Regions from separate parts of the Homo sapiens genome. Here region 1 is reported to be linked to region 2. The links are microRNA targets in miRTarBase. Many come from high-throughput screens and were not tested one by one. Region 2 holds a microRNA gene; the other region holds the end of a gene's coding sequence.

Region 1 (7,127 bases), not on the chromosome of region 2:
GTGTAAATGGATTTGTGTGCCTGGTGTGCCGCACCAGCTACCTTCTGGCTGTATATGAACATCATATGTAAGTGAGAGAGACAGCCAAAGGGTAGCTGAAATGACTGTGAGTGATTCTCACTGCAAGCTCTACTGTCCAAACATAATTTTTTAAAAATTCAAATTCTGTTGGCAGTAGTTCAGAAGATAAGTAAATTCAGATTTTTCTCAGGACAGTTTGTGTCTGTATCAGCCTCTCTTAAATATTTAAACTGAGAATTAGTTATCTTGAATAAGCAGATAATTGTAAAGGATGATTTTCATCATTATCTGCTTATAAGGCATGTAAGAAGTTTATGTGTTCAATTGGTGGTAATGGTTTGATACTACTTGGAAAACACTTGTCTGGGAAGGTAATGTTCACTCGACCTGCCACTGCTTGGAATTGGGAGATCGTTTTAGTCAAATTGATTGGCAAAGTTAATCAACACCCCATGTGGCTTTTTCTTTGTTCACTATAAACAATTGGTCATTGGATTAGACCAGTTGACGAAAGTAGTGATTTTGCCCCTATATAGATGTTATTTTGTTATGCAATATTGATTTTTATTTTTCTATTAAAATATGCTCATGGTCCCTTCTTTTGCTTCTCCCCATTCATTGTCTCCTGCAGGATCAATATCAGTTTTCCTATCGTGCCGCACTAGAGTACCTGGGCAGCTTTGACCACTATGCAACGTAGAAACCCCTGACCCATTCTGGATTTTTACTACAGGCCCTTCAATATCCATGGAGTCTCTTCTGAGCCATACAGGGCACTTGAGAAGTCCTTCTTAACTTCTAGCTAACAACTACTTAGTGGGACTATTACACACAAAACAAATTAAAAACAAATTATTCCAGGTGGACCAAGAATTCACAGTTTAATAATCTAACCTGAAAAATAATGAAGAGAATCCTGACTGATGAGGCATCTGAAGGATTTTATTTACAGATACCTCAAGGATTCAAAATCAAGGGAAGAAGAAATCACAGCAAAGAACCACCATCTTATTCAGGATTGCTTGAAAGGTGCAAGGAGAAATTGCCAGAATGCTGCAGTTCAGCACAAGATATGTGCTGGTGTGGCTTCTCACAATGAAACGGACTCTGCTTTGACATCGCCCCTTCCCACCATACTGCTCATAATAACATTTTAGGGGGAAAGGGGAGGGAATGTTTAAAAAGAAAGTCCTTGATTTAGTTTTTTAGTATTGTAAAGATACTGCTGACCTGTGCTTCATTTCTAACTGTGTAAACTTTTTTTTAACAAAATGTATCATTCGATAAAGTGAATTTTAAAAAAGTTACATAACTCTTCATTTTTTTATTTCCAAATCGTAGGTTTTTTTAAGCTGTAGAACTGTTATCTGTAATATCTTGCTGTAGAAATATCAAATCATTTGAAAATTTGCACATTTTTGTGCAAAACTCAATCTACAGTATCAGTCTCGTCAGATATATTAATTTTACACTTCAGTTTTGATTGGTGAGAAAGTACCCATTCTCTTCAAATAATCAAAGATAATTATTATTTTGTTTTGTTTTTGGAATCAACAGGGAGGCGCAAAGTATAAAGTTGCTGCTAACATATATACATATATATCCATATTTTATAAGGGTGTCTATGTATATATAGACAGTGTGTCCACACAAAAAATAGATACAGTTATCAGTCAGTCAGTTCTTCCATGATTTAGTTTTTTTAAACGTAGAAAAGCTATTGTAAACATCTCTTTCCATTTATTCTTAATTTTTTGACATATTGGTATTTCTTTAAAGGGAAATGAGGAATGCACATCAGTGATTGATTGTCAAACCTCACCCCCTGATTTCCTACCTAATCTACCCCCACCTAACCAATCAATCACATCCACAAATTGTTTTGTTTGTTTGTTAGTCAGGCTTCCAACAAAGTTCAATATTTCTAACACTCTAGTGCAATAAAAATTATTATTAAATAGCTAAGAGGTGTGCATGTGGGAAAGGTCAGTGCATATCCCTTTAGGAGGGGAGAATGTTGTAATATATCAGCTATCGAGTTGTTTAAAAAAAGTGTATTCAATCGTATATTGTCTATAGTATGTGCTATGAAATTTGCATTTATGATATGTAACAGGGGCAAAGCCAAATTCATGTTACTCTGTTCAGTCAGAAACATTTTGTGGCATACAGCATTCCTGGGAAGTGCTGTACTTTGTTTCGTTTTGGTTTTAGTTTTGCATTTAGAGTGCCTTATAATTGATGCCTATTTTAATAGCATTTCTTTTTAGCTTTTGGTTCGTATTTCCATTCACTGTTCGTATCTGTTACTTTCTATTAAAGCATTATCTGTTTACCACATGTACAAAAACTCTTTGAATAATATGCATTCCTAGTTTTCAGCCAAGTCGGGGATGTTAGTGATTGTACCAGCCCAAAGCACTTGGATAATCAGGGCCCTTCTTCCTTTTATAATCAATCATCAACATCAGAAAAAGCTACTTGTTTTATTTATATTCCCTTCCAAATCCGCTCTGGAACATGCAGTAACTGCACCAAACTTATTTTAGTAACAAATATCATTGGCAACTTTGGAATATATTTGATATTCCATTAGGATTTTTCTAAAAGGGGAAATAAACTATATATATATATGTATCTTACCCCCAATTCTTCCAACAGAATTTCTATAGGAAGCCATGGATGATGGCATAAGTTTGCCACATATTACATGATTTTAAATAATCCTCAAAATACCCAAGGAACTCTTAAAGAGTTTTGGTATGAGTATACTACTTTGGTTTAATTTTAGCTTCATGGATGTTCTGCATGGAAGGATTTTTGTTTTCCACATTTTCCCATTGCTAGCAGAGTGAAATCCAAGAGACCAAACATTTGCAAGCATTGTATTTGAGCACTTTTGTAAAAAACAAAGAAAAAGAAAAAAAAGAAAATATATATAATACTAAAAAAAAGTATCTAGAAGGCTACCTCAGAATGAGACTCTCTAACCTACATCAGAACCAGAGAAGAATGTGCACTATGTGGGTCTGTTATCATTATTTTCTTTTAGTTTGTATCTTTTTGGAGATTTATCCAAGTGCCAGATTACTCAGTGCTATAATTTTCTTTTAGTTAAACAAAGGGGGTCAGACAGACATTGCATCATCCAGACATGCCTTGTTGGACATGTAGAATCCGATGGAGCACTGCACACCAGAATGATTGGCCAATGAGCAGCTTCTCTCCCTGAAACAATAACTGCCCATTTGGCAAAGGGAAAGATGACAATAATCAGAAGAAGAAAATGAATGGGATGCATACCATAGACGAACGAGGCGGAGACTATTGCGGGAATCTTACTGTTCAGGAGCTGTTCCTAGAACTAACTCCCTTACTGTCATTGATGTGCATTCCACTCTGTGCTTTTCTGTACAACCATTCAAGTTTTAATTTCCCAGGTGAACCATCTTTATCTGCCATTACCACAAGCTTTCAAGTTTCCAGTTATTTTCATCATCATAACCAGTACGGTGCTATTATTTACCTATGTACGTGTAGTTATGTATAATTTTGTAATTAGTTACAATGGTAAAAAAAATCAAAATATATAAAAAGTGATTTGTACAGAACTTTATTTTAGCTCTTTTTTAAAAATGATTTGCATGGTTAGAAAACGGCGAGGACAGCCAGGGGAGGGAAGGGCCTCTAGGGAACTTTGCACTTTCTATACCTTTGTACTATGCACTGCCCTATTGATTCTACACCCAATAATGATATTACTTGAACCCATCTGTAAGAAACTGCTTCGGAAATTCATTTGTGTGTATGTAAATAACACAACATAGAAACAGGAAGGGAAAAAAGTCTGCAGTAATGCACGTATTTTTTTTCTTTCCTGTTTATTTTCGGTTTTGCTTTAAGTCCTTTTATTTTTAATTCCCTTTTTGTTTTTCTTTTTGGGTTTTGGTTCCTTTTGGGTTTATGGGTGCCCTGATACTCCAGCAGAGATCAGAAGGCTACAGATCCATTCTATCCATCCGTTATGTGGCTTTGCCATCCCAGCTTGGAGTGTCTTTACAAAGATAATAACAGTTGTGTTCTTTGCTCTCGTTTTGGATGCATAGACTGAAAAATTAAAACAAATAACTTGTAAAATGGCTTGTTAAAAAATACAATTACCTCTAATTAGTAGTACGCGTAAATGTTTTACAGAATGAAAGGCGTGCTTTTTATTTTCTTACTTCGTTACATTGGTGGCGAAAGAAGTCTGTATGAAAATCAGTTCTTTGCTGACACAAGTTCCATTTGTTACAAATGAATTCTAATAAAAATGTCAGTGTTATGCAGCCCTGGCCTTTGCTTTTGTCCATGCAAACACTTTGGTTTTGAACTGACTATTTGTTCTCTCTTCTCTTCTGGTTATCTAGTTAGTTCCTTGTACTAGTAAGAATTCTGTTTACCGAGAGACTACTGTTTACAAATATCTACCTTGAGGTAAGCACTTTTCACTGGTAAGCAAACAGAGACTCAGAGAAATAGTTTTTCCAAGTTCACAGAACAAAGAGGCATTGCTTTCATTCATATCAGAGATCACAGGCAATCTTTGATTCTGTGGAAGATTACTATATAGAAATTTAAGTGCACAACTGTATATATACATCTATATGTATGTATGTATTTTCATCTCGAAACAACTTTCATGCACATAAAAATAGCTCCATAGTGTTAATTTATTCATACCTTTGGGAACATGGCTAAGAAAATACTTGGTTTGCGTTATTTATTCAGTAATTCAATATGATCAAGTACCAATAATGGGTCAGAATTGTTCTAGGTATTGGAAATGCAGCTCTGAACAAATGAGATACTGCTGCTGTTTGCATACAGACTACAGTCTACTGAGAGAGGTTGGCACTGAAGTAATAGTAACATCACATGGGACCAGTGCTATGAAGGAAAGTGTAGGATCCTTGAAGTTAGGACTTTCAATTGTGAGTGACAGAAAGTCTGACTCAAATTGGTCTACAGGAAAAGAAAGGCGTTTACTGACTCATGTACTAAAAGATTAGGAATGGACTCATTTACTAGAAGAGTAGGAATACATCATCTTCAGGCATAACTTGATTCAGGGCTCAGTGATGCCTTCAGGACGTGATGTCTCTTCCCATCATCCAGCCTGATTCTACTTTCACAGTTTCAATTTTAAACTCCCTTTTTGTAGTCCCTGGAAGCTTTGGGATCATAACACCACAGAGCAGACAAGTGGAAGAGTTTACTTCCCCCAACAACACAACCAAAAGTCCTAGAATGGAGTGAATTCTTCTTGATCCTAATTGAACCTGTCTTGGGGTAAGCGATGATCTCAGGAACACAAGTATGGACAGAAGGCGAGAATGTGTGCATTGAGTTATCAAATCCAGAAGGGTTTAAGGTGGCTGTCCCTTTGCCAAACCCCAGTGAATATTGTGGGACCAACAACTGGCTGCTGATCAGCCTAATTTGTTAACATAAGGCAAAGCACAGGTATGCTTGGTAATGTTAAAACTACTTGTTAGAAATGATGACAGAATAAAACAATTCCATTATCCAAACATTATTTTGGAAATCCTGTTATTGAATGAACAACCAGACTCCTCTTTTTCCACTTCACCTAATTGGCTTTTACTTTTGCAGATATGACCACCCTATTGATTGATTGTGTAAAAACAGGACAGAGACTTCGAAGTGTATCAGATTTGATATTTTGTTCCTTGTGATTCATAACTTTAAACAGATATCTGATAGAATACCAAGAATAACAAATATGATCTGATTGTATACATGTACACACACACACAGAATTAATAGTTAATAATAACTATAAGCTTGGGACTTTCACTTAATTGTATCCATAATTAAACTTTATGAGAATTTTAATTACAATAATTGGTAAAATTATGAATCTGAGAAATATTTAACTTTATAATGTTTAAAATAATTTCTGCAAATTCTGAGGAAATAGGCAAAGACCTGTGAAATCTTGTGTTTAATAATACAAAAAGACTTAAAATATGTAAAATTGTGTATGTGTAAAAATGTTTTACAGTTATATATACAATACATATATGTAATGTATATATTACATGTAATTTTACATATATTATTTTACATACACACCATAATGCCATTTATAATGCATTAGCATTTCACTATTAAATAGTGTTTTGGAAAAAAGATAGCTACATTAAAAATTATTATAATATACTTTTCAAGAAGGGATATAAAATTATGTACACATCTTAAAGCAAAGAAGTGACTGGAAAGAAATATAATTATTAAATGATACTGTGTGATAAAATTTTGTTGCTGCACTTCGTACATTTTCTAAAATTTTTACAATAAGTATTTCAAAATAGCAAATTGTGGGTGCTTTGAAATATGTGAGAAGATAGAATAATTTTTAAAAAATCAATTTACAAGGCAAGAATGAAGAGAAAAGAGAATCTAGGACAGGAGGGGGCAAATAGAAAGTAATATGGGAGATTTAAAATTTAAAACAGTAATTACTTCAAATGTAAATAAAGTATATTCAACTTAAAGATGCAGATTTTTAGCCTAGCTATATAATGCTTGTAAGAACATGAGGCTACTCAAAGTAAAAGGATGCAAAAGATATACCATGGAAACATAGCCAAAAGAAAGCTATACTGAGTTATATTAATATCAGCCATACCATTACCAAATAATAAAAGGGTCAGTTTCCGATGAAAAACTTCAATGCACCAGGAAGATGTGACAATTATATGTGTGTATGAACCTCATAACATGGCCTCAAAATGTAGACAACAAAAATAGAACTTAAAGGAGTTACATACATATCTACAGCTATCATGGGAGATTTTAAACGCTTCTCTTATTAACGTATAAAATGAACAAACCAAATAAAACTTCAGTAAGGGTATAAAAGATATGAACAAGCTGATTAACAAAATTTACCTAAGTGAGCTATGTAGACGACTAAATTCAATAACTTAAAAATATACATTATTTATAAAAGCATTTAAAACATTTACCTAAATTAACTAGAAATTGGACCATAAAGCAAGTCTCAACATATTTGAAGAGTTGTAATAATGTGAAATATG
Region 2 (7,127 bases):
GTCTGAGTCCTGGTTTCCCCGTGTCTGGTCGTTCACTTCACGACTCCAGATGGGAAAACAAAATTATTAAAGTTCCTACCCCATAGGATTATTGTTATAATAATTAAATAAGATAGTATAAGAACACTGCCTGACATACAGTGAGACTTGGTAGATAGTAACTATATCACCATTATTATCACCATCATCACTGAAAATGTGTGTCTGGGACTTACTCCCTAGGAAATGCCTGAAATAAAAATTATTCCACTGGCCCCTGAAGAAAGAAAACCAGGAAGCTCGCGTTGTTCAGCTGCCAAGCCTGTGCCAGGCAGTCTTCTGGGTACTTTATGGGAGTCACTCATCTGATCCTTGGAAAAAGTCCATTAGAATCAGAAGCACCAAGAGGCGAATTACCTTGCCAGGGTCCGACCACTGTCACTCAGCTGGGAGGGCTATGTATGGCCCTGGGTGGCAGTTTCAGTCCATACCAGCCCCTGTTTCCCACCCCATTGTCAGAGAAGGCTTGTCTAGTCCCACAAAGGCCATTTGTAGTTTATGTGTGCCCTTAGAGCTACTCCTCGAAGGAATATTATGCAGCTATAATATTATGCAGCTATGAAAAATAATGGTTGCTAGGACTGTGTAGCACGAAGAAAATGCTCATGGTATAACAGAAAGGATGCAGAATTATGTACTTATTATGATTACAACTCTAAAAACTCACAGATGAAGAAAATAAGTAGGGAATGTACAAGAATGATGATGGAATTGGGATGATGGAAGGGTCTGTGTTTTAACATTTTATAAAACAAAGGTTTAAAAAATAACAGCACCTTAAAAATTAATGACTGCTGAAGTAGGCCTGTGAGGACTCCCTACAGTACTCTAGGATCATATAGCCTTTGTGTTTACATTGAGGGTTTTTACAGGAAAGCCAAGGAGTCCTTCGGCCAAGGTCAAGGTTAACATAACTGATGATGTGAATCCTTTGTTTGAGGGTTCCTACCTTAGCTCACTCCCATCGTATTAGGAAGGGTGATGGGTACTTCTAGAATGCTTCACAATGGTCTGAAGTCTTTCTCTGCCTGATGGCCAGAGGTGGATATTATCTATGAAACTGTTTTGGAAAACCTGCAACCCAAACCATAGTTTTTGTGCCTAATAGGGCACATTGCAATAACTTTTGCATGAAATATCTTCCTTGCCTTTATAAAGGAATTTATTTCCCCAATTAAAAAACAATAACAACAATCTGCACCAAAATCAGCCAGTCTTTTGAGTTGAATCACTTCTCTCCATTCTCTCCCAAAACCTTAAAAAAATCCTCAGGGTACTGTCAGTAAACAATTGCTTATTACATCCCTATAACCCTACCCTGGTACACACACATGCCTTCAGTATAAAATGGATGTGTGTTCCTTCTGGGGAGTATTCACACTGCTTTCAGGAAGAGTTTGGGGAGAGACAGTAATTTTGTCTAAAATGCTCTGCTCACCACCGTCTCAGGTTGCCTGTTTTTAAAGGAGAATGGCTCATGGTCTTTGATGATGATTCTGGTACATTTCCACCTCAGGCTCTTAAAACTTAAGCATCACTTTTTGCCTGGGATCTCCCAGACATGCACCGTTGAATCTGCTGTTCACCTGGGGAGATGAGAATGTCAGTGAGCGCTGGTGCATGTGCTGACAGTATTGTTAATGGCGCCGTTTCCACATCTGCAGGCAGACTTGTGCTCCAAAGACAGTTATCGGAGTTGCTGCAAAAGTGACCACCCCCTGCAGCCGTAACCTTCAATACTGTGCCTAGTCTCGAGCTCAGTCAAACCTGGATGCCTTTTCTGCAGGCCTCTGTGTGATATGTTTGATATATTAGGTTGTTATTTAATCCAACTATATATCAAACATATTCCTACAGTGTCTTGCCCTGTCTCCGGGGGTTCCTAATAAAGTTTATAAGGCAACAGGAAAGAACACGTTAAAATCACAAGTAGATTTAGAAGATGGAGCACTCATTACAATTCATGTTATCTTCCATTTCTTCTTATAGCATTTGAGACCTGTATCAGTATTACTGGATTACTTGCTTATTATAGAAACAATAAGTGTTGATGTTTCATAAGAGCCTGGGGTATTCTGTGTGGCTTAGTTTTGTGCAGTGATGAATCCTTAAGGAATTCAATATGCTTGGTGGAAAAAACGGTTCCAACCCATGTCTGTGACACAGAATAAAGGTCAGGATTATAGCCTCAAACACATCTAGATTCATGTTTCATTTTGGTTCATTTTTATCCTGATCTTCAATTTAGAAGTTCATGTCAGGGTTTCAGCAAAAATTCAAGGAGCACAGATCAGTTTTCTATGACTTCCCTTTCCACTCACAGTAACAGAATGTATAAAGCAAATCCTCCATACCAGCTGCATGGATACTGAGTCAGTGAGCTTTGTACAAACCTTGGATATAGGACTAAATATATCTCATGAAGGTAATATAATGTTGACTGAACTCTTGAATTTCCTGTTATAGGTTAACTTGTCAGTGGAGGTTGGTAATATTTAGAATAAGCCAACAATCGGAAAGTAATATCATAGCCTAATTGACTGTGGCAGGAAGTTTGGGATTATGATATAGAAAACATTTTTTCTGGTACATAACAGCCTTCTTTGGTTGGTTTTGACCTCTTCCTTATAGAAAAGCCTGTGAAGTATGTGTGAGTTCATTCTGAGTTCTCTCAACAAACAAAATACTTTGTGAGCACTGCTTTCTGGAAAGAGAACTACTGTTCTCAATGTTTTGGAGGAGAAAAGGTGTAAGCAAATGGTTTAAACAGGTAGTCATGAAAGCTTCCCCTTACTGTGTCTAGAAGTCATTGCCACATTGCTTACAGGTGAATGCATAGTGACAGGGTCACCAACAGCAACATCAGAGAGGTGATGACACAGGAGAGGGTCCTGTAATGTTGGAGTCCTGGCTTCTGGAGTTACATAATGGATCCTGTCTCTGGAATCCTTCTCCATTGAGAAGCGATCTGTGTGTGTTGGCAGGTGCTCTGTCAGGCGGGTTTCAAGATGCTGCCCCAATCAGTCCCTCCTTCACACAGCTAGAGAACACCGGCTTTGGTTTTGAGTCCAGTTACATTGTTTGACTGAAATGGCAAATGGCCATGGAAAAGAGACAGCAAGTTATTACGAACAAAGAAAAACATGGTTTCAAAAGGACCTGCAGACGAAGCCCAGTTGTTTGAATTGATGTGATTTTCTTGTTTCTTTGGGTGACTTTGTCACTGACCAGCATGTTCTCTGTAGTGATTAATATGGTGAAGGGAAAAAGGAACCAACTGTTCAGGAAGGAGGAGGACAAATACAGCATTTTCTGTATGGCTGCACTTGGGCTTTGAGTGGCACTCATTGGTTCCAGACCAGGAGCATACAGGGTGTGAAAAGCAAGTATGGGGCCGGGCATGGTGGCTCACACCTGTAATCCCAGCAGTTTGGGAGGCCAAGGTGGGCGGATCATTTGAGGTCAGGAGTTCGAGACCAGCCTGACCAACAGCTGGGTTTCACCCAGTCTCTACTAAAAATACAATATATATATAAATATAAATATATATAAAAATATATTTTTATATATATTAAATATAATTATAATTATATATTATATAATATATTATATATTATAATATATATTATATATTATATTATAATATATATTATAATATATAATATATATAAATATATTATATATATATATATTTATATATATATATAATAAGTCAGGCATGGTGGTGCACGCCTGTAGTCCCAGCTACTCAGGAGGCTGAGAATCGATTGAACTTGGGAGGCGGAGGTTGCCGTGAGCCGGGATCGTGCCACTGCACTCCAGCCTGGGTGACAGAGTGAGACTCGGTCTCAAAAACATAAATAAATAAGAAAAGCAAGTATGGGAGACTCCCCTCCAGGGTAGACCAGTAGGTCCTTGTCAGATCCTTCACAGACACAGAAAGGGGGCTTAAGATGTAGGGAGTTTATCTGATACAGCTTGGGAAGAACCCTGTTATCTTTTGTCTGTGCTTTCTATATCGACATTCAAGGGCCCCTTAAACAGAAATAGTGATTAAAAGATTATTTCAGTGGCGTTGCTTTCCATTTTGAACACAAAAGTAAAGCAATGGATACTATGGGAAAACTACTCCCAAGATACTAATCATGCAGGTGCGGACCTTTTCCAGCAGACACTGCATGAACTCGCGCGTATTCCTCGGATGCGGAGGGTGTGGTCCCTCCCCAGTCACAGGCACAGCCATTTGGCAGTTTCTCTGCCACCCATTTTGCCTGTTTAAGGTCTCTCTGGAGCTTTCCCTGAGACAAGGCCAGCTGTCCATGCCTGGCTCTTAGCAGTTCCAGTTGTTCTGGGAGGTGTACCTTTTGTTTGAACTAATAAAGGTGGCAGTCCTGAAGCCACCCCATCCATGGGTCCTCCAGAGGAGAAGCTGATCTAACCTTTGCACAGTTTGGGGCTTTGCATACAGGCTAAGGCCTCCCTCAAGGCACCTCTCAGTTCAATACCAGAAGCAAACTAGTAGCAGCCAAACTTGCAACAACAAAAAAAAAAGAGAAATGTGGCTGCCTGCTCCACTCCGGCTTCCAACTGGCAGGAAAATGCCTCACTCCTGTTGTGGGAGTTCTAGACACTGGCCTCCTTTTTTCCCTCAAGGACATTTAAATTAAATGCAAAATGTTCACACTTTAAAAAATATATATCCAAGAGGGTTTTTTTAAAGTTTCTGATGCACTATGACCTTATTTTTAGTAGCAGGCATTCTGCAAGACTCTGAGTAACACAGAGCAAAGCCTGAGACCCCACTGGAAAGATGACACGGGTGGTTCTTCAGTTTGTGGAGCCAGTTGTGAGAAGGGCGACCATTGTGTTTTTAGCTCTCAACAAAGCATTCCCTCAAAGTAAGTTTTCAGGGAGGGAGGCAAGCCCTTTGGCCATCTCCTATGCATGCCTTATGCTCCTTCACCTTCAAGTTCATTGGCGGAAGGAGCTGTGGGGTTGCAGGGCATAAGAAAAGGCCAAGAAAAAGACCATGGGAGGACATTCTCTTCCCCTGCCCAACACTTGCCCAGGACCTGACAAGGACAGTGAGCAGGGGAAGTGGGTAAGGACGTTGAGGAGGAGCGGGGGCAGTGGGGGATGTTGGTAAGGATATTGAGGAGGAGGTCAAGAGAAATCAGAAGAGAAAAGGTAGTTCCTGCTTATTTTAGTCACCGCCTTCTAAGAGAAGTTTAATTTGGAACTGTCCATGTCTAGGCAAAAGGACCAGGAAGGTTGAGTTGCTCCTCCAGTGACAGAAAACTGAGTAACTGATACCTGGAGAAAGGGCAGCGAAGACTCCACAGTCACATAGTCAAAGTACAGAACAGTGACTACCACCCGGATTGTCCCACTCCTGGTTGGGTGCTGAGAGAGGAGCTGGTGCCCATCTATGCTGTTTGGTACCTGACGCTTACTGATTTGTGGGTTTTACTTATAATGAATTTAGGCTGTAATCAGAAATAGCAAGAAGAATTTTTATTGGAATTATGGATACATAACAGGGTTTAGACAGAGAAACAGATTAATTTAGCCCCAAACCTGAAAAAAACAATTTTTGATAATGAAATTGCTAATAGTTTTTGAGCATCTCCTATGAGTCAGCCATGCTTTACATATACTAATCACGTGCTTGTAATGACTCCATCAGATAGGTTAGGAGGGGAAGTAGGCTTAGAAGATGAATGAATTAGTGTGAAGACCATGTTCTCAGAATCCATGAAAGGCCAAATGTCAAAAGAAACATGAGGAAAGGCTGTCCCTTTTACCTTCTCCACTTTCCACACCACTTCCCCTACCACCACCATTTCCTCTTCCAGGGGACATATAGCTACTGAAACTTTAAACCCATCAGAGCAACATAAAGGGGTCCCAAATACTCTCCCAACTGGGAAACAGGGGAAGGGAGCCAACCCAATATATAGCCTTTCCCAAGAGGGATCTCACCAGACCACTGACTTTTTAAAGGGTGAGCAAGGAAGGTCAGCATGCAGGGAAGAGGTCAACTACAGGGTACTCAGACCTTTCTAGAAGCTACCAAAAAGCCCAGGTAGGGATAAATCTGTCCTCAGCAAGAGTTGGCCAGACAGCCCAGGAAAGACGATTGCTTAGAGCTGATGGGCACCTGGCCAAATAGCCTTTTCAAATGAAGGGGAAGGGGGAAAAGAACAGTATATCAAAGGAGAAGTTAATTCAGCATGCAGAGGCAGCAACAAACACCTTCATTAGGCAGAGTAGAAGCTTAGTTTGTACATCTGTTCACTCTTTTTCCCAGTGCTGTCTTGTTACATAAGAGTGCCTCTTGGTAAAATGCCACTGTGTTTACATTTGTATGTCCATGCATGACTAAATGTCACAAACTGTGAATTCCAGTTGAAGGCTGCAAGTAGAGTGTACAATTAACAACTCAAGGCCTCAAACAGGGCAGGAACTTGCTCATAGCTGTGTATGCATCTGTCCACCAGGGCTCAGGAGTGGATGCTAATGATGTGGATGCTTACTCTGTGTATTTCTCCTTCTCCTACCTTGTGCGTTGTGCTCTGGCTGAACTCTGGAACTTGGGAAATGCATTTTGAATGGATATATTCATTCAGCAAATGTTGATCATCACATGGGCTCCTCTGCCTGATTTTGTGCTAGAGAAACATAGGTTGAATAAAACACAGTCTCACCCTGGAGGGGATCACAGGCTGGTAGGTTTAAGTTAAATGGTGTTTGTTTTCCTGAGTCCAGGCCAGCATTTCCTACAGAGTAGTGTGTAACCACCTCTGTAAGAAATACAGATTCCTGACTCCCACCCCAGACCTACCAAAACAGCATCTGCATCTTTAACCAGATCCTCAGGTGATTCTGCAGTGAGGGCTATCCATTTATTTATTTATTTATTTATTTTTCTTTAAAATTTTTTTCTGTTTGGTTTTTGAGGGTACATAGTAGGTATATATATATAATATATATTATATTATATATATATAATACATGAGATGTGTTGTTACAGGCATTGTATTAGCTTGTTCTCACACAACTAATATAGACATACCCAGGACTGGGTG

Evidence for each region. The annotated mature microRNA hsa-miR-190a-3p reads CUAUAUAUCAAACAUAUUCCU and lies in region 2 at 1,872-1,892, shown strand. An mRNA with a match to its seed (bases 2 to 7 or 8) in the 3' UTR can be bound and repressed. Matches are read on the target gene's strand: a 7mer-m8 pairs with bases 2 to 8, a 7mer-A1 pairs with bases 2 to 7 and ends in A, and an 8mer does both.
Region 1: miRTarBase lists PTPRD as a target of hsa-miR-190a-3p. Seed matches in the 3' UTR shown: 7mer-m8 at 1,609-1,615, 7mer-m8 at 1,617-1,623, 7mer-m8 at 1,650-1,656, 7mer-m8 at 2,644-2,650, 7mer-m8 at 2,646-2,652, 7mer-m8 at 2,648-2,654 and 3 more.

What each region holds. Positions count from the first base shown.
Region 1 is chr9:8,311,468-8,318,594 of GRCh38, reverse strand. It overlaps PTPRD (protein tyrosine phosphatase receptor type D), which reads left to right. Exons shown (of 46, transcript NM_002839.4): 46 at 653-4,349. The coding sequence ends at 721. Among named protein-coding and RNA genes, the nearest start is that of DMAC1, 520 kb to the right of the region's middle.
Region 2 is chr15:62,822,137-62,829,263 of GRCh38, forward strand. MIR190A (microRNA 190a) reads left to right here and starts at 1,821; the gene lies at 1,821-1,905. All of the region lies in intron 54 of TLN2 (talin 2), which reads left to right. LOC105370854 (a long non-coding RNA gene) reads right to left here. Exons shown (of 7, transcript XR_007064671.1): 7 at 7,122-7,127.